6 separate regions of the Homo sapiens genome follow, and regions 2, 3, 4, 5 and 6 are each linked to region 1. Evidence: fine-mapped expression QTL. A gene starts in region 1. Each other region holds a variant in brackets. All regions are shown on one strand. Distances are between the middles of the regions.

The links.
Region 2: its variant is fine-mapped to the expression of SAXO4 in whole blood (TOPMed, PIP above 0.99).
Region 3: its variant is fine-mapped to the expression of SAXO4 in whole blood (INTERVAL, PIP above 0.99).
Region 4: its variant is fine-mapped to the expression of SAXO4 in whole blood (TOPMed, PIP above 0.99).
Region 5: its variant is fine-mapped to the expression of SAXO4 in whole blood (INTERVAL, PIP above 0.99).
Region 6: its variant is fine-mapped to the expression of SAXO4 in whole blood (TOPMed, PIP above 0.99).

What each region holds. Positions count from the first base shown.
Region 1 is chr11:61,478,807-61,483,893 of GRCh38, forward strand. SAXO4 (stabilizer of axonemal microtubules 4) reads left to right here and starts at 2,314. Exons shown (of 14, transcript NM_145017.3): 1 at 2,314-2,410; 2 at 2,976-3,112; 3 at 3,505-3,622; 4 at 3,849-4,002. The coding sequence starts at 3,004. RefSeq lists an enhancer at 3,751-4,045.
Region 2 is chr11:61,301,905-61,306,904 of GRCh38, forward strand. DDB1 (damage specific DNA binding protein 1) reads right to left here. Exons shown (of 27, transcript NM_001923.5): 22 at 1,961-2,131; 23 at 1,142-1,251; 24 at 678-847; 25 at 353-455. Among named protein-coding and RNA genes, the nearest start is that of VWCE, 9.1 kb to the left of the region's middle. The variant G/A (reference allele first, on the strand shown) is at 2,202.
Region 3 is chr11:61,104,008-61,109,094 of GRCh38, forward strand. The region is part of intron 1 of CD5 (CD5 molecule); the gene reads left to right. Among named protein-coding and RNA genes, the nearest start is that of CD5, 4.1 kb to the left of the region's middle. The variant G/T (reference allele first, on the strand shown) is at 2,969.
Region 4 is chr11:61,419,677-61,424,763 of GRCh38, forward strand. CPSF7 (cleavage and polyadenylation specific factor 7) reads right to left here. Exons shown (of 10, transcript NM_001142565.3): 3 at 1,714-1,932; 4 at 794-897; 5 at 273-418. Among named protein-coding and RNA genes, the nearest start is that of CPSF7, 7.8 kb to the right of the region's middle. The variant G/A (reference allele first, on the strand shown) is at 2,831.
Region 5 is chr11:61,442,940-61,448,026 of GRCh38, forward strand. It overlaps SDHAF2 (succinate dehydrogenase complex assembly factor 2), which reads left to right. Exons shown (of 4, transcript NM_017841.4): 4 at 3,002-3,794. The coding sequence ends at 3,132. It also overlaps the pseudogene RN7SL23P. Among named protein-coding and RNA genes, the nearest start is that of SDHAF2, 15 kb to the left of the region's middle. RefSeq lists an enhancer at 3,403-4,150. The variant C/T (reference allele first, on the strand shown) is at 3,144.
Region 6 is chr11:61,262,992-61,268,078 of GRCh38, forward strand. It overlaps VWCE (von Willebrand factor C and EGF domains), which reads right to left. Exons shown (of 20, transcript NM_152718.2): 16 at 4,471-4,553; 17 at 2,131-2,221; 18 at 1,965-2,047; 19 at 1,496-1,586. Among named protein-coding and RNA genes, the nearest start is that of PGA5, 24 kb to the left of the region's middle. RefSeq lists an enhancer at 3,325-4,524. The variant G/A (reference allele first, on the strand shown) is at 2,965.

The DNA of each region.
Region 1 (5,087 bases):
TGGTCTCACCCTTTGTGCTTCGTGTGTGGAACTCCCACGAGCCTCTGTAGTAGAATGGGAGCACTTTGCTGGAGGGCAGGGCTGTGTGCACTCACTCCTGTGTCCTTGTGCCCTGTGATCCCTGAACAGAATCGTTAGTCCGGAGGGTGGGTGCCAAACGTGCTTCAGCTTGCCTTCCCATGGGGGGCTGGGTGAGGACACGAGTGAGCCTCCACCCTGGCAGGCCAGGTCACTACAGGATGAATGCGGCAAGGGCATCTCCTGGGTGAGGAAAGGAGATGCCTCCTTTCCCTTTATTCAGCCTTCATTCATACCTCACTCTCCCCTGAGAGCAGGGGTGCTCTGAAGCCAGCTCTACCGGCTCAGGAGAGCTGAAGGCGAAACTTCCAGGAAATTGGCAAGCTGGTTTTTAACTCTGCCATTGTTAAAAATTAAATTACTGGCCGAGCGCGGTGGCTGACGCCTGTAATCCCAGCACTTTGGGAGGCTGAGGCAGGCAGATCACTTGAGCTCAGGAGGTCGAGACCAACCTGGCCAACATAGTGAAACCCCATCTCTACTAAAAATACAAAAATTAGCTGGGCGTGGTGGCGTGCACCTGTAATCCCAGCTACTCAGGAGGCTGAGGCAGGAGAATTGCTTGAACCAGGAGATGGAGGTTGCAGTGAGCTGAGATCGTGCCACTGCACTCCAGCCTGGGGGACAGAGCAAGACTCCATCTCAAATAAATAAATAAATAAATAAATAAATAAATAAATAAATAAATAACTTAAACCTGCAATTTAATGAATTATATTAAAAACAAAAAAAAATACCTAAAACTCATCACCCCTTAATTATGTGAGTACATTTTTCTATTATTTGTGCTGTCGAGGTTACTTACGCCCATTATGTCTGCATGATGGGACTACTCCCGTACAGTGGTGAGCGACCTTCCCATGTCCCGGTTCAAAGACACTGTAGTGGTGGTTTGAAAGCAGCCCTGATGGGACCACTGACATCACAGAAATTGGCAAATGCTGCAAAGTAGGGCTATCCCACCCCACCCAGAGATCTAACTGTTACAACATTTACAAGCCTGAAAGCCAATTTGAGGCAAAAAGGCTGTCATGGAAGAAGATTCTCACTGTGGAGTTTGCGCACTCAGATTTGAGTCCAGGCTCCGTCTCCACCCACTGTGGGGCCTGGGCTATTTCCCCTTGAGCCTCGCCTTTCCTATCTGCAAAATAAGACTAAAAGTACAGCAGCTTTTGCAAATTGAGCATTTGCCGAGTGTGGTGGCTTGCCCCTGCAATCCCAGCAACTCAGGAGGCTGAGGCAGGAGGATCACTTGAGGCCAGGAGTTCAAGACCAGCCTGAGCAACATAGCAAGACGCTGTCTCTACAACAAATAAATACATAAATAAGCAAGTCAGGCAGGGGGGAGCACACCTGTAGTTCTGGCTACTTGAGAGTCTGAGGCAAGAGGATTGCTTGAACTTAGGAGTTGGAGGCTGGACTGAGCTATGATGGTACCTCTGTACTCCAACCCAGGTGAGAGCATAAGATCCTGTCTCTCTTAAAAAAAAAAAAGAGCATTTACTACCTGTCAGGTGCTGAATCCATGCTCTTGCTAAATCTGCCAGCAGCCCTGTGAGGTGGGTGCAGTCACGTCCCTTGCGAAGATGGGGATTTGGGGGCGTGAAGAGGATAAGTACCTCATCAAAGGTGACAGATCAGATTTGAACCACACTCTTAACTGCTGCGGTTTATTGGCCCTACAATAATAGTGCCCAGTTCACAGGGTGGTTTGGGGGATTACACGACGTAATGTGTGTTAAAGGGCTTAGCACAGATTCAGCTCCAGAGGAACATAGTAAATGTTGATTTACCGAGAGGCAGAAGAGCGGGATCCACATCCACCCACGTTTGAATCTCAACTTGGCTATTTTCTGATTGCGAGATCTCTGGAGTCAAGTCATTTTGCTTATCTAAGCCTCATGTTCCCCCAGTGAAAATGGGGATAATCATAGCTACTGAAGAGCTGCTCAGAGGATGGAGATAGAGGATGTAAAGTATCTGCCGAGAAGTGGGTACTTTATGGGAGTGAGTGTTCGGGATTATCTTTTATTTTATGTCACGCAGACAGCAACTCTTCCCAGCCCTGTGGAGGAGGCCGGAGGTTGGGGCCGGAGCCCTGGAAGCAGGGCCTTGCTCGGGCAGCTTCTGACCCTCCCCTCCTGGCCAGGTCAGCCCCTCAGTGGGCCCTGGCCCTAGAAGGTCTCAGAAGCCTGGGGACGCTGTTGCTAGGCACCAGTTGCTAGGCTACACATTGTTTCTCCTGCTTGGCCTCCTCCAGGAGGGCTGGCTTCTCTGCAGAGCTCTGCTTCCTGCAGCCTCTCCCCGACCTCAGAGCCTCTGCAGAGGAAAGGTGAGGGTGGGGCCGCTGTGGTTGGGCCTCGGGGAGAGTGCAGCCAATTCCCAGGGGAGGCAGGCAAGGCCAGAGGCGGGCAAGGCCATGGAGATGAGGGAGAGAGAGGAGCCGGGGGCTGGGAGTGAGCGCCTCGGCCTGACTTCTTGGGTGGGGGCCAAGAATTCCCCAGGTAGTGGGTTGTCGGCTCATTCATTCCGAGAGGTGGGTATGTAAGGTTCAGGTCAGGGGCCGAGTAGTCAAACACCTAGGTCTGAATCCCAGCACTACCACCTATTATGGAGCAAATCCTTTATCACTTGGAACCTCACTGTCCCAGTGGTAAATGGGGACAGGAAGAGTTAATAAGAAGGTGTGGGAAAGTGAGAGGAGACATGAGGACTCTTGGGATAAGTGTGGATGATCGGTTTCGTCCTTAGTTTAGGGACTTGGGAGCTGGGGCAGAGAGACAGAGGCCTGGGAGAAGGGGCCAGCTGCGTTGTGGGTGGTGGGGGGCAGATCTTCGCCCCTGTGGGCTTCCGAGCCAGGCTTGGGACCCATGAGGCTCCCCGTGCTTCCTTTCTAGGCCCCCTGGGGCCCTGCCCCACAGCATCATGATGGGGAAACTCCCCCTGGGGGTCGTCTCCCCTTATGTGAAGATGAGTTCGGGGGGCTACACGGACCCCCTGAAATTCTACGCCACCAGCTACTGCACCGCCTACGGTGAGGGTGCCTTTGCGCAGGAGCCTCTGCTAGGACATGGGCAGGAAGGGAGGGGCTCTCTCTGAGGGAGGAGCAGACCCTCTGGCTGTCACACTGCAGAGCAACTGCTGAATCCGTTTGTCCCCTGGGCCCTGCCCGGCTGCTCCCTTCTCTGGTTCTGTCCCTGCAATTCTGTCACTGTGATTCTGCCACACTGACCTTGTCCCCAGCCCACCCACTCCATTTCCTGCCATCACAGTCCTGAAAGGGCAGGCTTGCAAAGCTCCTGCCCGTGGCTCTGAGCCCTCCCCTGTCACTGTGACCCCTGTGCCCCTCGGAGGACGCTGGCCCTGCCTGGGAAGCCCTGCCTGTTTTTGACCTTGGGGTCTGTCTCCCCGTTACCCCTCTGGCAGGTCGGGAGGATTTCAAGCCCCGTGTGGGCAGTCACGTAGGCACCGGCTACAAATCAAATTTCCAGCCCGTGGTCTCATGCCAAGCCAGTCTGGAGGCCTTAGACAACCCGGCCAGGGGGTACGGTCTGTATGGCCCCTTCCCAGCCCCTGCCCTGCTCATCAGACCAACTCCAGGTTCCTTGGATGGGGACCCTGAGCTTTGCCTGCCCTAGGCTGGGGGTCCTGGGTGACTCAGGGCACAGCGGACCTCTGAGCCATCTGTGGGAGGGTGCAGGGAGGAGGGAAGCTCCTTAGCAGAGGACAGAGGCAGGCGGCCTGGGGTTCTAGCTCCTCCTCACCCTCAGGGAACAAGCCCAGGACCATTTCCAGTCTGTGGCCAGCCAGAGCTACCGCCCCCTGGAGGTGCCTGACGGCAAGCATCCCCTGCCCTGGAGCATGCGCCAGACCAGCTCAGGCTATGGGCGGGAGAAGCCCAGTGCGGGTCCCCCCACCAAGGAGGTCAGTGCTGGGCCAGGGCCAGGAGAGGGAAGCCTCAGGGTGGGGTGGGGCTAGGGCTGCACTGCCAACAGTTGGTCAAGGTGGAGGTGACAGGGCATGGAGCAGCCACCTTGTAGGGATGGGGTCCACTCATCTTTCTCCCCTTTGTCCTCATCCTTGTCCCCACCATCCCCACCACCTCTATTCCCTGCCCCAGCCCCACCATTACCTCCACCTCCATTTCCATCCCCATCCCTGTCCCCATTCCCATGAGCCTCACACTCCCGTCCACACCTGCAAGCCCCATCACTGTCCCTACTACCACCACTGTCCCCCCACCATGGACATCCTCACCCCATCTTTTTCATTTCTTTTTCTTTTTTTTTTTTTTTTTTTTGAGATGGAGTCTCACTCTGTTGCCCAGGCTGGAGTGCAGTGGCACGATCTCGGCTCACTGCAACCTCCACCTCCTGGGTTCAAGCGATTCTCCTGCCTCAGCCTCCCCAGTAGCTGGGATTACAGGCATGTGCCACCACACCCGGCTAATATTTTGTATTTTTAGTACAGACAGGGTTTCACCGTGTTAGCCAGGATAGTCTCAATCTCCTGACCTCGTGATCTGCCCGCCTCAGCCTCCCAAAGTGCTGGGATTACAGGCGTGAGCCACTGCGCCCAGCCCCATCTTTTTCATTTCTATCCTCATTATTACCACCCTTCTTATCATCAGCACCACCACCAAAATGGACACTCATTCATTCATCCAGCGAGAATGTTCTGAATATCTCCTTCATATTTGAAGATGATAAGAGCGGGTGGAGTGCGGGGTGGGGCGGGGGTTAGGAAATACAACAGGGAGAAGCAGGGAGGAAGAGAAGTGAAGGAGTTGGAGGCCAGGTGCGATGGCTCACACCTGTAATCCCAGCACTTTGGGAAGCTGAAGCAGGCAGATCACTTGAGGTCAGGAGTTTGAGACCAGTCTGGCCAACATGGTGAAACTCCATCTCTACTAAAAATACAAAAACTAGCTGGGCATGGTGGCACGCACCTATAATCCCAGCTACTCAGAAGGCTGAGGCAGGAGAATTGCTTGAACTCGGGAGGCGGAG
Region 2 (5,000 bases), 180 kb before region 1:
GTTGCCCTCAACCAAATCCCTGAAAGGATGTGCTCCTGTGTTGTGATCTAAATTCACATTTGGCCTGCTACACCGAGAGGGCCAGAGGCGGACACATTTCAGGAATATAAATGTACATTTCCAAGATGGACCAGCGGAAGCTAGGTGATAAGTACTTTGGGAGTCAATATACTGTTCTATTGTGTATGTTTGAAATTTTCCACATGAAAAAGTCAAAAACAAAACAAAACAAAAAACCTGTTCTGTACAGGAACCTAATCAAGACATGTAGTAGCTTCCGGGTAATGTGACTCCGTGTGCCACATATGCCGGGATGTGCTTCCCAGCAAGGGGATGGCTCTGGGAAGGATATAAGGAGTGCTCGATCTTCCCCACACTTTTGATGACTTTATTGAGTCGATTCTGCATGTCCAGCAGGAGGTTGTACCAGCTCTCTGACAGTGAGGTCACCAGCCCTGAAGAAGTGAAGGAGGCAGTGAGCTGCAGAGAGCTCAACCCCACAGCATGTATCCTCTACGTAAAGGGCAGCCCAGGTGAGCAGCTCAGGGAGGGCTAATGTGCTGCAGCCTCCTCTAGTAAACACCTAGGTCTTGTACAGTTGCTCTCCCCAGTCCCTCAGAATGCTGGTATCAGGAAGGAGGCCTGTGTGGGGGTGTGCCCCACAGGGGTGACCTTACCTATCATGCCGTTGACCGTGCCGAAGAGCACCGAGCCTTGTGTGGGGGTGGAAGTCTCACCCAGATTCTGCATTACCAGAGAGCCGTGGCAAAAGACATTGACAAACTCGCCCAGGTGGAAAAGACCAACCTCCTGGAGGTGCTGCCGCTCCTCGTCAGTGGTGGCAGCGCTGAAAGGCGGTAAGAAAGTCACTTTCTGAACCTCCTGTTTCCACCACAGGCCCTGAGACAGGACCACGTGCAGTGGTCACGGTGCTCAATTTCCCTGGGGAGCTGACATACTCCACAGTAGGGGAGCCAGTCTAAAGAGGTGGATTTCTGTCACCTTTTATTCTCTGACGAGGAAAGTTCTATCTCTGTAAACAGGAGCACCTGAACCTGACACAGAACCCAATGCTTGCATCCACCAGAGACCAAGGAACTCCCAGCCCTCCCCACCACTCCCAGAGCTGGCCACTACTCACCTATCCTTTTGACACACAAACAAGTTAAAGGCATTTTCAGCCCCCAGAAAATTGTCATCATCCAAGATTTCCACAGCACTCATCCAGTTGGGATTAAAGTCTCGAGCAATCTTAAAACAGACAAGGTGAAAGAAGAAAGCATAATCAGCAGTTTGCACGGAATCCAGTTCTGGGACTTGTGTTTCCTTTATTCAGGAGCAAGGCCCCACCCTGCAGAAGATATAGCATGGTGTTCAACAAGTGTCACCCTAGAGGGATTCTCCCCGACCTCTCTGCCAACGCAGCCCATTTGGTTGCCAACTGCCCAGAGATGGAGCCTAGTCAGAGTTTGAGTTGGGAGTCTCTAAAAATACTTAATCAGGGCCGGGCACAGTGGCTCACGCCTGTAATCCCAGCACTTTGGGAGGCCGTGGCGGGCCGATTATGAGGTCAGGAGATCGAGACCATCCTGGCTAACAAGGTGAAACCCCGTCTCTACTAAAAATACCAAAAATTAGCCAGGCGTGTTGGCAGGTGCCTGTAGTCCCAGCTACTCGTAGTCCCAGTTACTTGGGAGACTGAGGCAGGAGAATGGCGTGAACCTGGGAGGCAGAGCTTGCAGTAAGCCGAGATCGCACCACCGCACTTCAGCCTGGACAGAGCCAGACTGCGTCTCAAAAAAAAAAAAAAAAAAAAAAAACTTAATCAATGTAGAATGTCTGCTCCGGGGAAAACATTTCTGCCCCTAATACTGGGCTGGCTTATCCTTCCCCACCAGAGACACTTGCAGGGGCGGTGGCTCAAGCAAGAAGTCTGCTCGCATCCCCCCACCAGCATCACCTCTTCAAAGTTTCCTTCCATGGGCTTGTAGGCAAGCAGCAGCACTGAGCGCATAAGGTCGCCCACCAGGATGAAGTCGCCCTTGGTCTTCAGGTAGAGGGCCATGATGTTGTTGTAGTGGTTGCACTCAGTGCGCAGCTCCTTCTCTGTTGTCCACTCATAGAGCCGCACCTGGGAAGGGCATTGTCTCTCTCAGCCAAAGGGGCCAGAGCTCTCTCAGAATGACTCCCCCCAACTCTTC[G/A]ACCCTTCATCTGCAGCACTACTTCTCAAAGTGCAATGCGGGACAGGAAACGGTTTTATGAGGCACTGGGGTGAACATTTATTATTTCACTATTACATATTTATGAAATATGAAAACACAATGAACACACCAAACCAGGAATACAAAACTTCCCAAGTTTTCCTTTACATAAAAAAATGAGTCCACGTAAAGGAAACAGTAATGTGGGTAGTCGGGCTTGGTGGCGCACACCTGTAATCCCAGCTACTCAGGAGGTTGTGGCACAAGAATTGCATGAACCCAGGAGACAGAGGTTGCAGTGAGCTGAGCTGAGATCATGCCACTGCATCCCAGCCTAGGCGACACAGCGAGACTCTGTCTCAAAAAAAAGAAAGAAAGAAAGAAAGAAAAGTCCAACAGAAACATTGACAAATAACTAAAGGAACCTGAAGAACTTGATTCTACAGCCACCCTCTACCACCCCGCAAGAGGGAAAAAGAAACTGTGCAGCCGGCCGCAGTGGCTCACGCCTGTAATCCCAGCACTTTGGGAGGCCGAGACGGGCAGATCATGAGGTCAGGAGAACGAGACCATCCTGGCTAACACGGTGAAACCCCGTCTCTACTAAAAATACAAAAAAAAAATTAGCCAAGCGTGGTGGCGGGCACCTGTAGTCCCAGCTACTCGGCAGGCTGAGGCAGGAGAATGGTGCGAATCTGGGAGGCGGAGCTTGCAGTGAGCCAAGATGGGGCCACTGCACTCCAGCCTGGGGGACAGAGTGAGACTCCGCCTAAAAAAAAAAAAAAAGGAAAAAAAAAGAAACTGCTTTTTTCTGTCTCCACCACAGTGCTTCTTCAATTACAACCACATCTCCAAAAGAATGAAAATGCTTTATCATCAGTAGACAAATGGAGAGCTACTTGGCACGGCCCAGTGCTAAAGAAGACAGACTCAACCCATCTGAACTGACAAGCCTCCCCTGGCAGATCCTTCAGGATCCAGATAATCCCCATGGCCTCTGCACATCTAGAAACTCCTGGGCAGAACATATTAATCAAACCACAATTTCTCAAGATTTGTCCAAAGAACCCTAGCTACACAGGAATATATTCCAAGAATCATTTGTAATAATTACAATGGTTGGCGGGGCGCAGTGGCTTACGCCTGTAATCCCAGCATTTTGGGAGGCCAAGGCAGGCGGATCACGAGGTCAGGAGATCGAGACCATCCTGGCCAACGTGGTGAAACCCCATCTCTACTAAAAATATAAAAATCAGCTGGGCATTGTGACGTGTGCCTGTAATCCCAGCTACTCGGGAGGCTGAGGCAGGAGAATCTCTTCAACCAGGGAGTCGGAGGTTGCAGTGAGCCAAGACTGCGCCATTGCACTCCAGCGTGGCGACAGAGTGAGACTCCATCTCATAAATAAACACATACATACATACTATGGTTACCACACCTCTATCACAGGGTAAAAGGTACCTCCAGAGTGCCCCGTCTTCAGGTAAGCCCACCTTGCTGGGCCTCCACACCTCCAACAGAAAGAGTGAAGCGGGGGGCCTCAGAGCTCCACATGTTCCTGCCAACACCTGCCACCACTCTCTCTCCACACTCTCAACCTCCCCATCGCCTTGGAGAGAGTCAAGACTAAAGCCAGACACCACCAGAAGGCCAAGACTCCCATTCTCTTCCCAAAAGGCTGTAGACTTCCACTGTCCAATATGGTAGTCACTAGCCACACATGGCTATGAAACACTTGAAATGTGCCTAGTCCATGTTGAGATGTGTTCTGACTATAAAATACACACCAGATTTTGAATTATTAGTATGAAAAACTGTAAAATATCTTAATAAGCATTTTTATACTGATTACATGTGGAAATGCTAATATTTTAGATATTGGGTTAAATAAAATACCTTATTCATTTCACCTGCTTCTTTTTGCATTTGTTAATGTGGCTACTAGAAAATTCAGAATGACATACATCGCTCATATAATATTTCTATTGGCTGGCAACAGAACAGATATGTCCTCACCTGACCTCAAATGCCACCCTCCACCCTCCTGATCCCTGTGCCCACTCACTGCACCCTCTGGAACACAGTCATTAACCATGGACAGCCACTTCTCTGGGCAAACCCTTCACTTCATTCTAACTCATATCCATGGCTCTTTCCTAAGGGCCTTGTGGCCCTCTTAACTTGTCTGTTTTCTCTTCCACTGTCCCTCATAGCACTGGAACAGGAGGTAGCACAGTCTCCCAAGCTCCTCGTCTGCTCTTTCAGACTTGTCACTCCCTCCCCTGAAACACCACAGTTTTAAGGCTCACACCACCAGACCACACAACCACCATCACCCACTAAAGCAGTCACCTGAATCCCCAACCCACCCATCACTCTCTCCCACACAACCTCCTATAAGTCTTGATGACTATAATATTCACAGAGAAGGTCCTTCTAATACCCTCACCTCTTAGCTTTTCTGACCCCTTCTTTCCCACTTACTTTGTCCATTCTTATGACCACCTCTTAAAGCCTGGCATTACAAGTAACTGCACTCTTCCTGAATCTCGTGTCCTCCGCTCTGCCTCTTCTCAGATGCTCATAGTCCACCACCATAATCACATAATAACTGTCTTGCAGATTCCAACGCCCTGACCCCTCTCCCCTTTCTCATGCTCACCTAACAAAACTCGACTTGTATTAAATTTTCATCTTCCACTCCAGGTAAGGAAAACCAACCAACAGGATGACTGTTCTTTTACATTCAAGACGACTAACTGAAAGGGGGTTCCTAAACCTCTCAGAAATAATGCATTT
Region 3 (5,087 bases), 370 kb before region 1:
TGTGAGTCTGTGTTCATGTGTGTGAGAACTGTGTATGGGGGAATGTGTGAGTCTGTGTGTGAGTCTGTGTGTGAGTCTCTGGGCATGTGTGTGAGTACTGTGTGGGGGGAATGTGTGAGTCTGTGTGTGAGTCTGTGTGTGAGTCTGTGTGTGGGAGTCTGTGCGCATGTGTGTGAGAACTGTGTGTGTGTGCTTTCATGAGCACAATGCGGCCTCCAAAGGCAGGATTATCTCCCCAACACATGTGACAATGGCACCTGTGCACACATGTTCACATGGTTCTTCTCACATGTAACAACAACAGGTACAAAATGCCTTCTGTCCCAAAGTAAGAGGCCTGAGACAGACCTCTGGCTGGCTTCAGGGACCCTGCTAAGGAGGGACCAGGCCCTTAAACCCCCCACCTGCTCCTCACCTCTGGCCTCAGACTTCATTGAGATAGGGCGGCTCCCAGCTGAGTATGGGAACCCGTGTCCTGCTCTAGGGCCCTCCCAACTGAATCCCATCATGGGTGAGGCTCCTGATGGCACCAGGCAAGTCCCCTGGCCCAACACAGGCCACAGTCAGGAAGACTTGGAGGTAGCCCCTTCACCCCAGTATGGGGACCTCCTTGAACCCCAGGAATACTCAGTTCCCAGTGTCTGAGTGAGCCGGTGGGTACCAAGCATTCCCTTTGTTCAGTGGGTAACGGTTTACAAAGCACTTTTAAAGCCATTTTCTGCTGCAAGCTTCACAACAGCCAATGAAGTAGGTGGGCCCATTGGCCCCATTTTACAGTGGGGAAAAGCGAGGCCCAGGAAGGCCGAGTGCAAACCCAGGGTGCAGCAGCTGGTGCACAGCCGAGCTGACCCCAGCCCAGCATTCCTGCCTTCACAGAGGCCCCTCCCTTAGCTAAAAGGGAAGGCCACCAAAGGCACTTCCGTGTGCAGGAAAATGGCCCTGGGACACAACCTCCACCAGCAGAGATACAGCCACCAGAGCTGGGGACACCAAGGGCCAGGGTTGCTGGAGTCAAACAGTGCAGGCACCCTTTGAGCCATTCCAAGGAGAGAGGCAGCAATGCCAGAGCCCTGGGGACACCACAGCCTCCTGGCTGGCATCGGGGCTTGGGGACCTTTGGATCCTGAGGCATGAAGATGCCCCCAGCAGGCCTGGGTGCTAGTGACAGGCCAGGGCTTCCCACAGTTGCTCCCCTCTCAGCCCCAGCCTGCCTGGACAGCTGCTGGCAGTGAGGCGGGGAAGCGGCTCTAACACAAACTGCACGTCCCTGACTGGCCTAGCCGATGCGACTCTGAAAGCCAGCACTGGGACGTGGGAAAGTCATGGACTCTGCAGTTTGAATTCCAGTCTGCCACTTACCAACTGGGCGACCTTGGACTAGTTCTGTAAGCCTCAGTTTTCTCATCCGTAAACTGGGTGCAACAGTACCTCATAGAGGCTTATAAGGATTCAATGAATCAATGCACACAGAGCTTAAGTACAATCCTGGCATATAGTATAGTAAGTACTCAATAAACAATAATAACAGCAACAACTATGATTATTATTATTACCAGGGTCAGCAAGAAACAATGCGAGGTAGGAGCCAATGGGGAGGAGGGTCTTGCCAGAGGCCTGCACAGCCGTCAATCTCTCTACCCCTCAATCCTCTTGCACAGGCTATTTATTCACTAATTCATTCATTTTTCATCTACAAATATTATTGAGCATCTCCTGTGCATCCAGCTCTGTGCAAAACACTGGGGATACAGGGACCAAGGCAGGAGTCCCTGCCCTCAAGGATTTGATCAGCTAACAGGAGAGCTGTTAGAGAACACAAGTAAACAAGCACCAAAGACCGGGCATGGTGGCTCATGCCTGTAATCCCAGCACTTCGGGAGGCCAAGACGGGTGGATCACCTGAGGTCAGAAGTTCAAGACCAGCCTGGCCAACATGGTGAAACCTCATCTCTACTAAAAATACAAAAATTAGCCGGGAGTGGTGGCACGCACCTGTAATGCCAGCTACTCAGGAGGCTGAGGCAGGAGAACCGCTTGAACCTGGGAGGCGGAGGTTGCGGTGAGCCGAGATCGCGCCATTGCACTCCAGCCTGGGCAACAGAGCAAGACTCCATCTCAAAAAAAAAAAAAAAAAAAAGGCACCCGAAATATTTACACATTTTGAAATACTGAGTGCAATGAGGAGAACAGCAAGTTCCTCAGGCACAATACAGTCTGCACTAGGATAGGAGGACATCCCTTTGGCTGGGCAGGCAGGGAGGGCCTCTCTAAGGAGGCGAGGTCTCATCTGAGAATCCGAGACCTGAATGAGGGACGGAGCCAGCCAGGCAGAGAAAAAAGGGAAGAGGGTCCCAGGCAGAGCGGATGGCAGGGCAAAGGCAAGGGGGAAGGACAGGCCTGAGAGGGTGGGGCTCCTACTGGGAGCAGGGCAGCAGGCCCACTGTCCCAGGCTGGGCGAGGCCCTGGTTGGATCATCCTCCTCGAAGACCCAGAGCTCCCCACCTCCAGCAGGGAATGAAGGGACCTGGGGGCCCAGGAAGGGACCTGGCCTTCCTGGGTCACTCTGTCACCATCAGTTCAGAGGGGTTTTCCCTGCAGTGACCAGGCGGCGAATTCAGCTCAACCTGACAAAATTGATTGAACATCTATTCTGTGTGTGTGTGTGAAATTGAACATCTACTGTGTGTGTGTGTGTCCATGTGCTGTGTTTGCGTATGAACACATATGTGCACAGCCCTGTGGAGGGGAGCTTTGGAGCAATGCAGACCTAGTTTGATTTCTGCTTGGCCACCCACAAGTGAACATCTCTCAGGGTCTCATCTATAAAAATAGGGGTTCCTTGCTGTGTCCACCTCAAAAGATCACTGCAATAATTACATCGGGTTTATTCAGAGACTAGGTATGGATTGAACACCTACTATGTGCCAGATGCTGTTCTAAGTGCTGAGGACACAGCAGTGAACAAAAC[G/T]GTGGAAAATCCCTGCCCTGGTGGATCTGGCATAATAGTCAGGGTGTGATGGGGAGACAAACAAGACACAAGCTAAGCTAGTGATTATGCGAATACTAGACGGTCATGAGAGGTGTGGAGACAGACAGATAGAGGAGGGCTGGGACCGGAAGCCTTGGTGGGGTGTGAGGTACCTGGGGAGGATTCAGCGGCTCTCATGAGAAGATGATATTTGAGTCAATATTTGAAAGAAGGGAGTGAGCCCACCGTGTGGGACCTGAGGAGAAGCGTTGCAGGCAGAGGGGCCTCCAGCTGCAGGTCAGTGGGGGATCGATGAGGCAGCCACGAGGGCCACGGATGCCCCCGTGAGGACTTGGGCTTTTTCTCCCATGCACTGGACAGCCACACAGGAGCAGAGAGGTGAGCATAACTCTCACCTCTCCAGGTCCTCAAGTGCATCTTGAACCCCAGGCCAGATGCATTTGGAACTCCAGAAGCTTTCAGATTGTAGAAGGAAATACTGTGTACATACTGTGTGCTCTTAACACACGCAGTGAGGCCTGGGGCAGCACCCTGCGTTCAACACATTCCCATTTCTGCAGTGAAACATGAATTTGCACACTTAGAGGGATGTAAAGACAGCAAACACCCTCCCACCAAATGCATTAGAACAAGACTTTTAGATTCTGGATTTTGAATTGCAGATAAGAGACTGTGGGCCTGGATCACTTCTTCTATAGCTACCACTATCACCGTGACCAGCATCATCATCACCATCATGTACCTTTCAAGGCCTGACTTTCATGGTGTCCAGAGGGACCCTAATACTCCTCTCCGGGGGACAGATACGGTAGGAATAGCGTAGGAAATGGGTGGTGGCAGTCTGCAGAGACGACAAGGGTCCCATGCACTGCCACAGATTCCCACAGAGACATCTGGAATGAACCCCTCCCTCCTTCTGGCCCCAGTTTCCCCCATCTGTACTCCAGAGCAAGCAGGCTCTGGGGCCTCCCTGGGGTAGACTCCCACAGGCCCTGTCAGGTGATGGAGACAGGGTTTCTCTCCTGACTCTACCACCAGCTAGCTGTGTGACCTTGGGCAAGTCACTCAGCCTCTCTGAACCTCGGTTTCCTGATCTGAAAATGGAGGTGAGCATGGTCCCTTCTTCACAGGGCTGTGGGTAGAAAGAACAAGTCTAGTGCATGAGAGAGCTTTGGGGTAGGTAAAGCTCTAAACAAAACCAAAGCCTTGTCTCTGTGACAGCAGAGACACCGTATATGGTGCGAAACTCATGCAACAGCAGACTACTAGTGGGAGAGAGAAATAACAATTCAAACAGCAAAGGTCATTCTGCCCACGACCCACTGTCCGCTCACTGGGACAGGCCCTGGGTGAGCCAGATTAGAGACCTGAATCTGCTGTTCCTTCCTGCGGGCTCCATTCCCAGGCCTCTCCTGGTGTAAGCCCAGTGTGACTCTATATGTGTTTTGCACATAAAAGCCGCCTAATCATAAACCAATCATTTCATCTGTGCTCAACCCAAGAAAGGGAATTTTGGTCCTTTACGACCTTCGTTTCCCTAAAGCCCTGATACAGCTCCAACTCTACAGATGACTGTCGTTTCAGAAAAGAGGGGCTTCTGACCTTTCAAGTCAGCCAACATATAGGATTCGAGGAAGGAAAATCCAGAATCCTACCCAAAACACAGGCAGATCTATTGTATTTCATGGACATCGATGGCTGTAGCTATGGGGAGGTCTGTGGACTGTTAGAAGGAATCACTGTTTACGGGAAAAAGGGAACACCTGACTTGCAAACTACACTAAATCAGTCATAGGTGTTTTATCTGTGGAACAAAGTGGTGATAGCACCCCGTCTTCTGAGGCTCTAGAAAGAAATGGGGTCTTCTGTGAAAAATCCTTGTCCTGGGGTCTGCACAGGGTAAGGATGCTGTCATTTTATTATCATCGGTCATTATCACAGGCCTGTGAATCCGGGTGCCTGCCAAACCCTAAGCAGGCCACACCCTTGCCTCCATTTCCCAGGGTGCAGGGGCGGCAGGACCTAGGAGTGAGCCAGAGGCAGGGGCCAGGAGTGCAGGTTACAAAGCCAGCCGCCCTGGGCTGAATTCTGGCCCTGC
Region 4 (5,087 bases), 59 kb before region 1:
GTAAAGTGACTTGGCCAAGGTCACACGAGTCAGTGGCAGAACCAAACTACAACCTGAACCTACTTGACTCCCAGCACAATGCTCTTTCTTCTATATAGACCTATTCTGAGGACTACTTGTCGACCATGACACCACTCACAACCACCATCACCCTCCCCCAAACTCACCCACACTGTAGGCTAAGCCTACACCATAGAAAACAAACCCACAAACACCCCCCCCTCATACAGATGGTCTCCACGTACCCCCTCTTGGGACTCGGACACACTCACGTTTCCGAGCCTGTGCCTCAAACTGTGACAGGTTCTGCCGGGTGGCCGGCCTCACGTCCACTTTTTCTCCATTAAGAACTTTCCCTGGTAGGAGTTCCAACAATTTGTGGACAGAGTTTTCAGAGGCTACCACCACCTCAGCATACCTTAGGAAAGAAAAATTAAAAATGAATGAAATCTGTAGACAGCCAAGAGAAGAAAAAAGAAATTCTCTTCCACTTTTAGTAAAAATTGATAAAGCAAAGGACATCTTGCTAAACTAAACACACATACAGCACTAACAACAAAGAGACAGCCTAAATCTTTATTTTTTTGGAATTAAAAATCAGTATTCTTCGCCCCTTAACAGATGGATATTCTACTACACTGCAGCTAGGTCCCTTTCTAAGGCAGTTTGCCAAAACCAAGGCAGTAAGCTGGGCCAGGGGTGGGAGTGATTAAAATCCAGGGCCAAAATATAGTACAGATCTTTTATCCCAATGGTTACAAATTAAAAGGGGCTTCTCAAATCCAGACCTCACCCTTTGGACTGGCCATTTGCTCGATTCTCTGCAAATTTCAACTCCACCACATCATAGACTCCTATAGAGCGAATAACCTGGATCAGCTGCTGGTCTGTGGTCCACTGGGGCCGGCAAGATGGAAAAGGAAGAGATGTCAAGAGCTACACCCCCGCCCGCCAATGTCCCAAACCCAGGATTCTAGTCACAACTAAGTCCCCCCAGAGGAAACTCAAAAGCCTGGCAATATTTCAATTAGTGCAGACTTTTCTTATTGTCCTCACCCATACAGAATTCCAAACCCACTCACCCCCAATCTCCATCTTTAGAGATTACGAAGATTAAAACTTATTGTAACTTTGACTGCCGTTTGGGCTGGCTGGTCATCAGTTCAAACATTGACAGCTAGCAATTTTTTAATTATAGATCTGTCAGGCTAGAGTTGACCATTGCCAGAACTTCCCCCACAGTAAATATACTTCCTAATTTGGAAAAACCACCCCCACCACCAGCCCCAAAACATCACAAAATAACTTGCAGAACAACAGTCACCACCTACCCCAAGTATACTAGAGTTATCAAGGTCTTTAATCCCCATCACCCACCATTATCACAGGACCATCTAATGACCACCAAGAGTTCAAGGTGTTCACTCTGAAATCTCGTCCCTCAGATGACCCTGCTAGACATAAAGCCCCAGGGTCAGGGGCAGTAACAAGATGGCAGAAAAAGCAACTACCCACTTAATCATTGCTTTCTTCGGCACCAGTACGTCCTCAGGATAGTTCTCTTTCAGAGATCAATCCAACCTGATCCCAGGAAAAAGAAATCCAACCCCATCAGAGCACAAAACAGTGCAACAGTAGTTTCTGAAAATGCCATCACCTCCCAGTGCTCTCCCTCCAGCCCACCCCTAAGCATTTTTGGTTACCCACACTCACCCAGGAGAAGCTGCCCACATAAACGGCAGCTCGTCTATTACGCAGGCCACTGTAGGTATACAGAATTGCAGGGGTCTTGTTGTTGGGCTTGGGAGATGGCTCCTGGCGAACAGGAGGAGGTGGTTCAGTGCTGCTGCTTCTGTCATCTGAGGGCTGTGAGGTGGCTGTCAGCACATCATCATACAGGTCAATCTGATCTGTATTGTTGAACTCTGGGTCCTAAGAGATGAGGGGTTGGCAAAGGTAGGTCTGCAAACTTCATTTTGTTCATTCTATTTCACTCTAGTTTATTAGAATCCAGTTAAATACTTGGTAAAACATGTACAAAACTTCCTTGTCCTACCCCAGGAAACAAAGTAAGAAAAACCTCCTTTTGAAACTGTATCACTTAATTATGCTTATGTACATTTTTTTCCCCTCAAGATTCTGTTAATAGTCTGTAAAGTTTCTGGCTTTAGCCAACGGCAAGAATCAAAAAGCACTGGGTGATTAAGCAAGCAAAGAAAGAATGCATAATGAGATGCATGGGCTGCTGTTATCAATAAGGTCAGCTTCTAAAGACCACATCTAAGATAAGCTAATGAAAACTTATTTTCAGTATCTTATGCTATTTCCAAAATCAAGTGTTACATAAAATTCACTTGTCTATTTAATAATAAATTTATTTAGAAACAGAATGCAGAGGAAAAGCATGAAAGTGGGTACAAAAATGCAGAAAAGATTGGGAGTTACTGATTTAAATCCCTTGATTGGTATAAATGATTTAGGAAAGCTCTAAACTCATTGTACACAATCCCATCTTTCCATCGGAGAAAATAAAAAATAAATAAAAGGGAAGGGAATAACAACAGGGGTTTTCCCCTACTAAGTTCTATTTCTTAAATGACATACAGGCCCAATGCATTACCATGACATGTATCTAGGAGACTTTTTTTTTTTTTTGAGACAGGGTCTCACTTTGTCACCCAGGCTGGAGGGCAGTGGTGCAATTACAACTCACTGCAGCTTCAACCTCCTGGGCTCATGTGATCCTCCCACTTCAGTCTCCCAAGTAACTGGGGACTACAGACATGCGCAACCATGCCCAGCTAATTTTCAAATTTTTTTTGTAGAGACA[G/A]GGTTTCACCATGTTGCCCAGGCTAGTCTGGAACTCCTGGACTCAAGTGATCCACTGGCCTCGGCCTCCCAAAGTGCCGGGATTACAGGGGTGACTACCATGCCCAGCCAATATTCAATGATATACAAAAAACAGTTAAAGTTCTCTAAAATATAAGGGCCAGAAAACAGGACAAGAACATAAACTGTATCACACAGTAAGCATTTACAATATGAATATGTATTATGGAAAATGTGCAAAATACATATTCTGCCTATGTGATATCTTACTTACTATATACCAAAACCCCTAAAACTACAACTACTACTACTACGATACAGGACCTTAATGTTTAGGATTTTACAGGCTGGGTGCAGTGGCTCACGCCTTGTATCCCAGCACTTTAGGACGCAGAGATAGGCAAACTGCTTGAGCCCAAGAGTTTCAGACCAGCCTGGGCAACATGGTGAAACCCTATCTCTACAATAAATACAAAAATTAGTTGGGCATGGTGGCACACATCTATAGTCCCAGCTACTCGAGAGGCAGAAGGATCACTCGAGCCCGGGAGGTTGAGGTTGCAGTGAGCCAGCCTGGGCAACAGAGTGAGACCCCATATCAAAAAAAAAAAAAAAAAAAAAAAAAGGGTTCAGGATTCTACAATGTAATTACCTCAGAGAAATCTTTTTTTTTTTTTTTTTTTTTGAGACACAGTCTTGCTCCATTGCCCAGGCTGGAGTGCAGTGGCGCCATCTCAGCTCACTGCAACCTCTGCCTCTTGGGTTCAAGTGATTCTCCTGCCTCAGCCTCCTGAGTAGCTGGGATTACAGGCACACACCACCATGCCCAGCTAATTTTTGTATTTTTAGTAGAGATGGGGTTTCACCATGTTGGTCAGGCTGGTCTCAAACCCTTCATCTCGTGATCTGCCCACCTCGGCCTCCCAAAGTGCTAGGATTACAGGCGTGAGCCACCGTGCCTAGCCTCAGAGAAATCTTTTTAAGGATTAGACAAGCATTTTATTTTTATTACAAGAATTAGACAAAACATTCAAACAATGCTAAAGATAATGCTGCCAAAATGACAGAGACAGCAAGTAGTTCAGTGTTTTAAGGATGCTACGGCAGTTTCATATTGCTATTCTTTTAAAAAGGGAATAAAGGAGGCACCTAAGTTGGGAAACTTGTCTAGTACCCTGAAGAAACAGTTTCTCCAAGGCAACTAAAGACAGGCGGCTCCCTTAACTTTCTCCCTCCAATATCACGGCAATAACTGCTAATTCTGAAGTGATCTGAAGACGACTCACTAAAAAATTTACTCTTAGACCAGTCCTTGTATTATAAGAACCTTTGGAAACAATCTTTCAGTTTTTCAGTTTATCTGAAGTACAGTGGAAGAAAATGCACACTAAGAGAATAATCTTGGGTTGTTCTGATAGAGAAGGGGGAAGGATTCTACTTCCTAAAGCATATAAATAATTTCAAATATTAAAACACTCTAAGAAACCCACCAGGAGGGCTTAACCCTTGTAAAAACGTTAGAAAAAGAATATCAAGAGACAGTAAACTTTTAGGGGGCAACTTAACAACAAGAAATTAGTGAGGCAAATAAGCACAGGAAGCTTGTTCCATGTAGTCAAATCCATCAAAAAGGATTGTGCATAAAAAGGGTCAGCATGTAAAGAATGAGGAGAGAAGCTAACACTGGAGAGGACAGGGTGGATAATAAAGTAAGGTGAGGTCAGCTAGGGCTAATGAGTGGGAAAACATTTTGTGTGTAAGTAATCACTATAAAATATTTCATAGCTGTTACGTCTCAAACTATCCCAACTCTATAGACAAATCACTCTTCTATTCATGTACCAGGTATGGTGAGTTGCTCCTGTGGTTCAAGGTAGAGAAAGGATTTATATACATCACTTGATCCCATCCAATGCTCAAATCCTTAGAAAGCACTACTTCACACCAAGATTCTTCTTTTTTTCTGAGATAGAGTCTCACTTTGTCACCCAGGTTGAAGTGCAGTGGCGCAATCTTGGCTCACTGCAACCTCCGCCTCCTGGGTTCAAGTGATTCTCCTGCCTCAGCCTCCCGAGCAGCTGGAATTACAGGTGTGCACCACCACACCCAGCTAATTTTTGTATTTTTAGTAGAGATGGGGTTTCACCATGTTGGCCAGGCTGGTCTCTAACTCCGGACCTCAGGTGATCCTCCCACCTCAGCCTCTCAAAGTGCTGGGATTACAGGCGTAAGCCACTGCACCCAGCCTTCTTTTTTTT
Region 5 (5,087 bases), 36 kb before region 1:
GAGACGGGTTTCACCATGTTGGCCAGGCTGGGCTTGAACTCCTGGCCTCAAGTGATCCGTCTGCCTCAGTCCCTTAAAGTGTTGGGATTACAGGCGTGAGCCACTGTGCTCAGTCTGTCCAACAGCTTTTGGGTTCTCTGTTTTGTGTTTTTTATTCTTTTTTCTCTTTGTGCATCAGTTTGGGTTATTTGTATTAGATAATATCTATTGACCTGTCTTCCACTAATTCTTTCCTTGATGATGTCAAATCTCATGATGGGCCTGTTGAAACCATTCTGCATATCTGCTACTGTATTTGTTTTTAGCATTTCCATTTGACTTTTGGAGTTTCCAACTCTGCTAGAATTTCTCATCTGTTCATACATTTTGTCTGCTTTTTCCACTGGCGCCTTTAATATTAGTCATAGTCATTTTAAATTCCCTGTCTGATAGTTCTAACATCTGGGTCATCCCTCAGTCTGCTTCTGTTGATTTCTTTGTCCCTTGACAGTGTGTTGTTTTTTTCTTCTTTTGTGTATATGTCTCGTAATTTTCTCATAATTGTATTTATGCTTACAATTGGGGATGCTTCTTCTACTTTACTGTTAGTGTGGGGATCAAGTCAGTGAGTTGGGAGGTAAGCTCAGCTTGGGTTGTTTTTGCTTTGGTTACCTTCATTGCATTACTAGTGTCTAGCGTTAACGTGTGCTTAGAGTGGAAGCTGGCTCTGTCGCCCAGGCTGGAGTGCAGTGGCACCCTCTCGGCTCACTGCAACCTCCACCTCCCAGGTTCAAGCGATTCTCCTGCCTCAGCCTCCTGAGTAGCTGAGACTACAATCACGTGCCACCACACCTGGCTAATTTTTTTTTTTTTTGAGACGGAGTCTCACTCTGTCACCCAGACTGGAGGCAGTGGCGCGATATCGGCTCACTGCAAGCTCTGCCTCTTGGGTTCATGCCATTCTGCTGCCTCAGCATCCCGAGTAGCTGGGACTACAGGCGCCCGCCACCACGCCCGGCTAATTTTTTGTATTTTCAGTAGAGACGGGGTTTCACCGTTTTAGCCAGGATGGTCTTGATCTCCTGACCTCGTGATCCACCCGCCTCGGCCTCCCAAAGTGCTGGGATTACAGGCGTGAGCCACTGTGCCCAGCCTGTGTCTGTGGTTTTATACACTCATGCTAGCCCACACTTGGCTTTTAACAATTCATTGCAAATTTTAGTGGCACAGGCCTGCAGTCCCAGCTGCCCTGGAGGCTGAGGCAGCAGGATCGCTGGAGCCCAGGAATTCTTGGCTGCAGTGCTCTATACCAATCAGGTGTCTGCTGTAAAGTTGGCAACAGTATGTTGACCTCTCAGAAGCAGGGGACCACCCGATTCCCTAAGGAGGGGTGAACCAGCCCACGCTGGAAATGGGACAGGTCGAAATTCCTGTGCTGATCAGTGGTGGAATTGCACCTCTGACTAGCCACTGCAGTCTCCCCTGGGCAACATAAGGCTGGCCCTGTCTGTATTAATTTAAAACAAATTTTTTTGGCTGGGCGTGGTGGCTCACGCCTGTGATCCCAGCACTTTGGGAGGCAGAGGTGGGCGGATCACAAGGTCAGGAGACCAAGACCAGCCTGACTAACACAGTGAAACCCCATCTCTACTAAAAAAAAAAAAATTACAAAAAATCAGCCGAGCGTGGTGGCGGGCGCCTGTGGTGCCAGCTACTCGGGAGGCTGAGGCGGGAGAATGGCGTGAGCCCAGGAGGTGGAGCTTGCAGTGAGTCCAGATCGCACCACTGCACTCCAGCCTGGGCGACAGAGTGAGACTCGTCTCAAACAAAAAAAAAAATTTTTTTAGCTGAATTCCTTTTACCCATTTGTATGATGTCCAGTGTCTCTTCTTCCTGTGCCTGCCACAGGTGAGCAAGTGCATGGCTCTCGTTTCTCCTTTGAAGGGCCTCTTTTTCCTTAGGTTTCGTCTGTTGGGTTGCCTCGTGACCTCAGTTCTCTGATATCTTTGAGAAAAGTCATAATATTTGTAATTTATCTGGCTTTTTCTTGTTGTTACAGTGAGTGCAATATTCTTTCCAACTTTCTACTTTCTTGGGGGAAGCCAAAACCTCTTTGATCTTATGTTGATTGTCACATGAAAACAGAGCCCTCACTAGATGCCAGGCCCTGTGCTGAGTAAGGGAGAATCTGACTTGGTTTTGAGGAATTCTCTCTCCTGGCGTCGTACCTAGTGTTGGTGGAAGGGTAATTCTGGAGCACATTGCCTCGGCTTTGGCAGTGGGAGGCTTTGCTTGTAATTGGCATCTTAAATAAGTGTCCCAAGGGTGTAGAGAAAGGTCAGGGGGAGCAGCACACTGCCAGACCCACTGCCGTAGACTGAGGCTGGCCTTCTCATTCTTCTGACTCAGTGCCTATGTTGCCCGTTCACTGAAATCTGGTTCTTTAGGCTCATGACAGTTCTGTGTGCCTCCAATATCCTTCCAATAAATTCCTTTTTGCTTAAGTTTACTAGAGTTATTAGTTTCTGTCTCTTAAAACTGAGGACCTCTAACTGATAGACAAAGGAGAGAGCTTTTGTTTCAAGAGATATATACATTGCAAGGGAAAACACAATGTCTGGGGAACAATGGAATTGCCAAATGCAAAGCAAAATAGTACAGCCAAGATTGTGCGGGCCAGGGGTCAGCAAACTTGTTCATAAAGGACCAGATAGTAAGTATTTTACTTGTAGTCATATGGTCTCTGTTGCAAGTACCCAATTCTGCTGTCATAACACAAAAGGAGCATGGGTAATATGTAAACCATTGGGAGCAGCTGTTCCAATAAAACGACTTGCAAATATAGGCTCACACAGTTTGCCACCCCCTGGTATAGGCTAACATCGTGTATATTTAGAAGAAGGATGGAGACAGTCTATATATCCATCTGTGGTTCTTGGCCAGTGTTTCGAGTTTTAAGATTCTCATACCTGAGCATTGACTGACTATGGCATAATTTTTTCTGCCCACTCTTCTCTTGCAGAAGCTAAACCAGCCCCAGAAATATTTGAAAATGAAGTCATGGCCCTGCTGAGAGACTTTGCTAAAAACAAAAACAAAGAGCAGAGACTGCGTGCCCCAGATCTTGAGTACCTCTTTGAAAAGCCACGTTGAGCTGTGCTCCA[C/T]GGCCTGGCATGGGGGTTCAGTCTGTGGATGGTAACTACTTATGATGGACGTTAGCCTTGCTTCCGGCTTCTTAGATGCCCAGCTGCCCTACCCCAGACCACTGGTCCTGCCTCAAGTGATGGACATAACCCTCTCCTAGGACATACATGTAAATGCACAATGTGACTCATTCTCATACTTTTTTGTTCAGCTCTGAGCCTCAAAAGTGATTTGTCAGCAGCGCTGGCATGCAGGCTTTGCCTGGCTGCTATCTCTAGAGGCAAGTCTGCCACGAGAGGGCACTGCAGGCGAAGCAGTTGTGCTTGCTCATTGCCTCAGCCCAAGTGTACTCAAAGAAAAGAGGCAGCCAGCTGTGCGTGCTGTATGGAAAGCCTCCCGCCCTCCCTGCAGCTCCCCGCCCTCAGTGGCCCAGGGCTTTGTTGAAGTGGAACTCCCCACTTCCAACCTGGTATGGCTCCTTCTGCGAAGGGAAGCTGATCCCAGCCTCCTGAGCTGAATCCTTCAAAGGCACAGCAGGCAGAATGAGGGCCACAGGCAGGAGTGGTGTGGGCACACTGCTTAGGAGTCAACATCTTCATCATTGGGCTTTCTTTAAAACGTGCACTTTGTAATTTGAAAGAGAATTATTAAAGCATACTGAAAAAAGGAAATTTACAATTTCCCAGCCCTCACAATTAATTTTAATTTTGTCTATTTTCATATAACCCATAGTCATGTTTATAGAGTTTTACAAGTTCACAATTACAGGTTTTATTTTCATGTAGCACTATAGAAAACTTTCCCCCTCATTCCTACAGTCTTCACAATTAGTTGACTAAATAATAATACATAAGAAATAATATATTAGAATGAATTAGTTAGAAGTGTTTTTAAAAGCTCTAGGGCTGTGTGACTTCTGTGTTGCTAGTGGTGCCCTCCCTGGAGGGGTTTTGCCCTCAGAGCTGTAATCTAGGCAGTAGAATCAGTCACCCAGACTGGACCAGGTGCATCTAAAGGTGTTGACTAGAAGAAGGTCGGCCAGATTTGATGAGCAGGTGGTTGGTGATTATAGGAGCCGCACACAGGGACTACACACGCACATGTTTCCAGCATTGTTGAGCTCCAGGGTTCCTACAGAGCCACCTCATGGTTCCTGCCTGCTCTTCAGTATCCCTGGTGGCTCAGGAGGGAAGGGAAGAGATCTAGCCTTTACGTAATCACAGTTAAGCCTCACAGCACTCTAGACTAGTGGTGTTACCTGTATTTTATACATAAGAAAGTGGGCTCAGAGAGAGGAAGTAATTTGTCCAAGGTCAGGTAGCTATTGAGTCGAAAAAGCAGAATTTAGTATAGCTCAGTCTGCCTCCAAAGCTCTTGAACTTTCTACTAGAACACACTGCCTTACTGCTGGAAATTTAATAGAAGTCTCTGTTTGGGAAAGCTGTGGCAAATAGATGTGACAGTTCTGAGACATGACCTCTGTGTTACATGGTGGGTAGGAATCTGCCAGGTGCTTCGCCAAGTGAGTAGATCTGAACTTGATCACCCAGTGAAGCTTCTGTGAGGAAGCAGCGCAGTGCACTGGTTACACATTTAAATCCTGGCTCTGCTGCTTACCTGCTGGATACATGAATTGACCTGAGCCTCAGTTGCCTCATCTATAAAATGGGGATGACAATGCTTCCTGTCTCAGCTAGTTGATGAGATGAAACACACAAAGCTCTTACATGGTAACTTGCACAGTATGTACTCTAGATATGAATGTCAGCATTTAGTCATAGCCTCAGTCTGAGACTTAAAACCTGTCCCTAACACAAATTGCCTGGCATATCAATGAGGTCACCATAGCTACATCCAGGGTTTCTCATCTGCAGGTCAGAAAGCTGAGCCTATTAATAGAACCACAGAATGTCTTACCTCCCAGTGAAGACGAGAGAGAAAACAGACCCTGGTGACAAGACCTT
Region 6 (5,087 bases), 220 kb before region 1:
ATCCAGAATGGAATACTATTTAGCCTTTTAAAAGAAGGAAATTACAGGCTCACGCCTGTAATCCCAGTGCCTTGGGAGGCCGAGGTGGGTGGATCACTTGAGGTCAGAAGTTCGAGAACAGCCTGACGAACATGGCGAAACCTTGTCTCTACTAAAAATACAAAAATTAGCCGGGCATGGTGGTGTGCGCCTATAATCCCAGCTACTCAGGAGGCTGAGGCAAGAGAACCACTTGAACCTGGGAGGCAAAGGTTGCAGTGAGCTGAGATCGCGCCACTGCACTCCAGCCTGGGTGACAGAGTGAGAATCCTCAAAAAAAAAAAAAAAAGGAAATTCTGTCATTTGCAACAACATGGATGAAACTGGAGGACATTATGCTAAGCGAAATAAGCCAGACACACAAAGACAACTATTGCAAAATCTCAGTTTTATGTGGAATCTAAAAAGGTTGAAGCCAAAGAAGCAGAGAATAGAATCGTGGTTACGAAGGCTGGCAGGGGCGAGGGGAATGGGGAGATGATTGTCAAAGGGTACACAATCTCAGCTAGACAGGAGAAATATGTGTTGTGTTGTGTTTTGTGTTGTTTAGAGACAGTGTCTCTCTGTGGCCCAGGCTGGAGTTCAGTGGCGTCAGTTCTTGGGAATCAATCCACTGTCCTATCTAAAAGCATCGACTCCAGTCTGAAACCCTGGCTCTACTACCAATCAGCTATGTGATCTTGAGCACAGCACTTCACCTGCCTGGGCCTGTTTTCTCACCTGGCACAGGAGGATGACAAGAGTATTGCAGGGGTGTAGACACATGAGGTGTCCCGGCACACCGTGGGTGCTCAACACATATTAGAGATTACTCTTCTGCAAAACGGACTCAGTTCCCATGTTGTAATTTAAAATAAAGAAGAAAGCATAGGAAGAGGTTAAGAAAGGGGATAAAGAAGAAAAAGGGAGTGCAGGCCGGGCGCAGTGGCTCACGCCTGTAATCCCAGCACTTTGGGAGGCTGAGGCGGGCGGATCACGAGGTGAGGAGATCGAGACCATCCTGGCTAACACGGTGAAACCCCATCTCTACTAAAAATACAAAAAAATTAGCCAGGCGTAGTGGCAGGCACCTGTAGTCCCAGCTACTCCGGAGGCTGAGGCAGGAGAATGGCGTGAACCCGGGAGGCGGAGCTTGCAGTGAGGTGAGATAGCGCCATTGCACTCCAGCCTGGGTGACAGAGGGAGACTCAGTCTCAAAAAAAAAAAAAAAAAAAAAAAAAAGCAGAAGAAGAAGAAAAAGGGAGTGCAAATAAACAGACATCATGGTGTGTGGCATCATGAGCACGGGATGAGGGTCAGCAGGCCACAGCACAGCTGTACAACCTTGCGCGAGCCGTGTTCCCTCTCTGAACATGGCTTTCTCTTATCCAGCCCTTTACAAGTTCTATGTACCGGGGAAGAAAAGTAAAATGGAAGAAGATGGCGGAGAAACTCCAGGACCCAGAGACCCACTTACCTGGACAGGAAGAGCAGCAGTCCCCAGGAAGCAGGGCAGGGTCGGCACAGGCCCGCTGGCAGGGAACCTTCTCACAGCTCACCTCTCCCAGCTGGGGAAGCAGAAGGAACCCCATGAGGAAGCCCAGAGCATCTTGCCTGCCCTGGGCAGTGCCCTCAAGGGCCTCTTGCACCAGCAGCAGGACCCACGGAAAGATCCCAGGACAGAGGCTGCAGTGCCTGAGCCCTCGCCTGGAGAACAGGTAAAGCCAGCTATGGCAGGACCCCCTTTGGGAAACCACTTCTCCCTCTGGACTTCCACAGAGGGAGGAGATGGTCAAAACCAAAGATATTCTGGCAGTTAATTAAAGGCGGAGGATGGCAGGAGGATGGATTTATGCTGGCTAAAGGGCTCCATGTTTTGCAAAGGGACAAAAGGCAAGAAGCTGCCCTCTGGCGGGGCCGCTCCTGGGTTCCCAGGCCCAGCTCACCTGGCACGTGCACCGGGTGCAGGGTTCATCATCCAAGGTGAACACCTGGCCATTCGCCACCTTCCTTCCCTCGTAGTTGCAGTCTGTGGAGGAAGGGGAGACAGGAGCCCATGAGAGCCGAGGCCTGGCCGGGAACCTGGCACGTGGGGCAGCTGGTCCCACTCACCTCGGCACACGGGGCAGCACTCCCCGTCAGGGTGGAAAGGGTAGGTACAGGTGATGGGGCAGTCCACGGGGGAACAGGCCACTGAGCCCAGCTGCAGGACACAGAAAACACACAAGGCCCTCGGTTCAGGGCAGCTGACAAGACACTCAGGAAGATGCCGCTCCTATAGCCACTGAGTGTCCATCAGAACAATCAACATTGTGGGAGGAGTCCATGGTGGGGCAGTGGGGCAGGGGGCGCATTTTCTCTGTTGGGGTCCAACTTCCCACTAGAATTCAAGCCCCTCGAAGGTAAGAACATGGACTTGTCCACGGAGGGCATCTGTTAACGGGTGCCTGTTGCATAAACTGCCCAGAAAAGATAAGCACCAAAACCCGATAGAGAAAGATCCAGGGGCCAAAGTTCCCCAAAGCCCGAGGCTGAGAACAACTAGGGCCTACGTGCAGTGGGTCACTCAGGGTAAGTAGCTCAGGGCTGTTTACCGTGAGTTTCTCAATCTTTCTGCAGACCGTGTCCCTTGTCACGCATGTACTCTGCTGAGGCTCACTGATCACCAAAGAAATACCGCATCTGCACCCACACCAGCAAAGCAGCGTCATCCCGCATTCAGGGCGTCAGCATGCTAAGCATGAAGAATTTTTTTACCCGGAGTGGTGGCTCACACCTGTAATCCCAACATTTTGGGAGGCTGAGGCAGGAGGATCATTTGAGGTCAGGAGTTCGAGACCAGCCTGGCCAACATGGCAAAACTCCGACTCTACTAAAAGCACAAAAATTAGCTGGGCGTGGTGGTGCGCACCTGTAATCCCAGCTACTCAGGAGGCTGAGACGGGA[G/A]AATCGTTTGAACCTGGGAGGCGGAGGTTGCAGTGAGCCAAGATTGTGCCACTGCACTCCAGCCTGGCGACAGAGTGAGACTCTGTCTCAAAAAAAAAAAAATAAAATAAAATAATTATTTTTTTCATCCAGGCATAGTGGCTCACACCTATAATCCAGCACTTTGGGAAGCTGAGGTAGGAGGATCACTTGAGGCCAGGAATTCAAGACCAGCCTAGGCAACAGAGCAAGATCCTGTCTCAGTATTTTTTTATGTAAAATTTTTTAGCTACATTTTTAAAAAAGCTAAAAACAAAATTTTTGGCTGGGTGCAGTGGCTCATGCCTGTAATCCCCAAACCTTGGGAGGCCAAGGTGCGAGGATTGCCTGAGCCCAGAAGTTCCATACCAGCCTGAGCAATACAACACGACCCCATCTCTATGAAAAGAATTTTTTAATTAGCCAGGTGTGGTGGTAATCCCAGCTGGGTGTGATCCCACCTACTTGGGAGGCTGACATAGGAGGATCGCTTGAGCCCAGGAGGTCAAGGTTGCAGTGAGCCAAGATCACGCTACTGCACTTCAACCTGGGTGACAGAGCAACACCCTGTCTCAAAAAAAAAACAATTTTTTTTTCATTTTCCAAAAACTAAATGATACTATGGGACATGCTTTTTCAGACTGAGAGGCAGTATGACCCAGGAGAAGAAATATGCATCTCAGAATCACAATACTAGGGTTCCATTCTCAGTACTTTGATTAACTAGTTACGGGATCTGAGCAAAGACTCTCTCTGTGCCTTGGTTTTCTCATCCAGAAGAATGAGATGATAAACTCTTGAATGGATTAGCTGAGTGCATGCCTATGAAGGGCGTGGCACACTGCAAGAGCTTGACCACATGGGTCTACTGAAAAGGTTCCAGTACTGGATTCTGGGTTTGTGCGTTTCACCTCCACCCTCATCAAGAATCCCTAAGACTCTCTCTAGGGGGTAACCCGGAAGCAGAGGACTTTGCCAGCCAGGTTTAAAAATATTTCTCTGGGCTGGGCATAGTGGCTCATGCCTGTAATCCCAACACTTTGGGAGGCTGAGGTGGGCAGATCACCTGAGGTCAGGAGTTCAGGAACGGCCTGGCCAACATGGCGAAATCCCGTCTCTACCAAAAATACAAAAATTAGCCAGGCGTGGTGGTGCATGCCTGTGGTCCCAGCTACTTGGGAGGCTGACACAGGAGAATCGCTTGAACTCGGGAAGCGGAGGTTGCAGTGAGCCAAGATCACACCACTGCACTCCAACCTGGGAGCCTGGGTGACAGAACAAGGCTCCATCTCAAAAACAAACAAAAAAAATTTCTCTGGCCCTGTCTAAAGGGTCACCCTGGGCAGGACTGGAGGGAGCTGACTTCCACCATGAACCAGAAGCATCCCTTGTCTTGGAGGTCTCTGGATTTTGCCTCTGGGATTCAGGAGCCGATGTCAGTTGTGGGGGAGTTTCCAGGGGCGGGAGTCAGATCTGGGTGGTCCATACCAGGCAGATGCAGCTCAGACATGGGTCCAGCACAGACGGGAAGGTCTCGTTGTTATAGAAGATTCTGCCTGTGTAGGTGCAGCCTGCCAGAGAGAGCATGCGCTGAGCACCAGCTGGGAGTGGCCAGGCACCAGGCTTCCCGCCAGGGCCAAGGTCACAGGCTTATCTGGATGGCAAAGGGGAGGCCATGTGCCTCCCCAGGCAGTCACCCTGGGAGTTAGGGAAGGGACAAAACGCCTGTTTGGATTGTCTGAATCGGGTATTGACTTTTTTCCCACTGGATTCAGCAAAAGGATCAAGTGTCTTGGCCTCAGTGTCCTCACCCTGAAGAGTGGGGAGATTCATCCTCTACCTCCTCACCAGGGGGGATCAGGTGGAAGAACTGGGAAATACGAGGTGTGTGTGAGGCCCCACAGCATCTTCCCAACCTCCTCTCTGCCCTCCAAACTCACTCAAACCACCAACCCCGCCTGTCCAGAACATTCCCCAACACTACTCCCCTCTCTGATTCCTGACAGCCCCAGAAGCCTGATGTGAGTGATGCCACCTTGGATGATACTATCATATACTGCTAAGTGTAAAAGCAGGTGATGAGACAGTAGGGGAAGCTTTAAAAA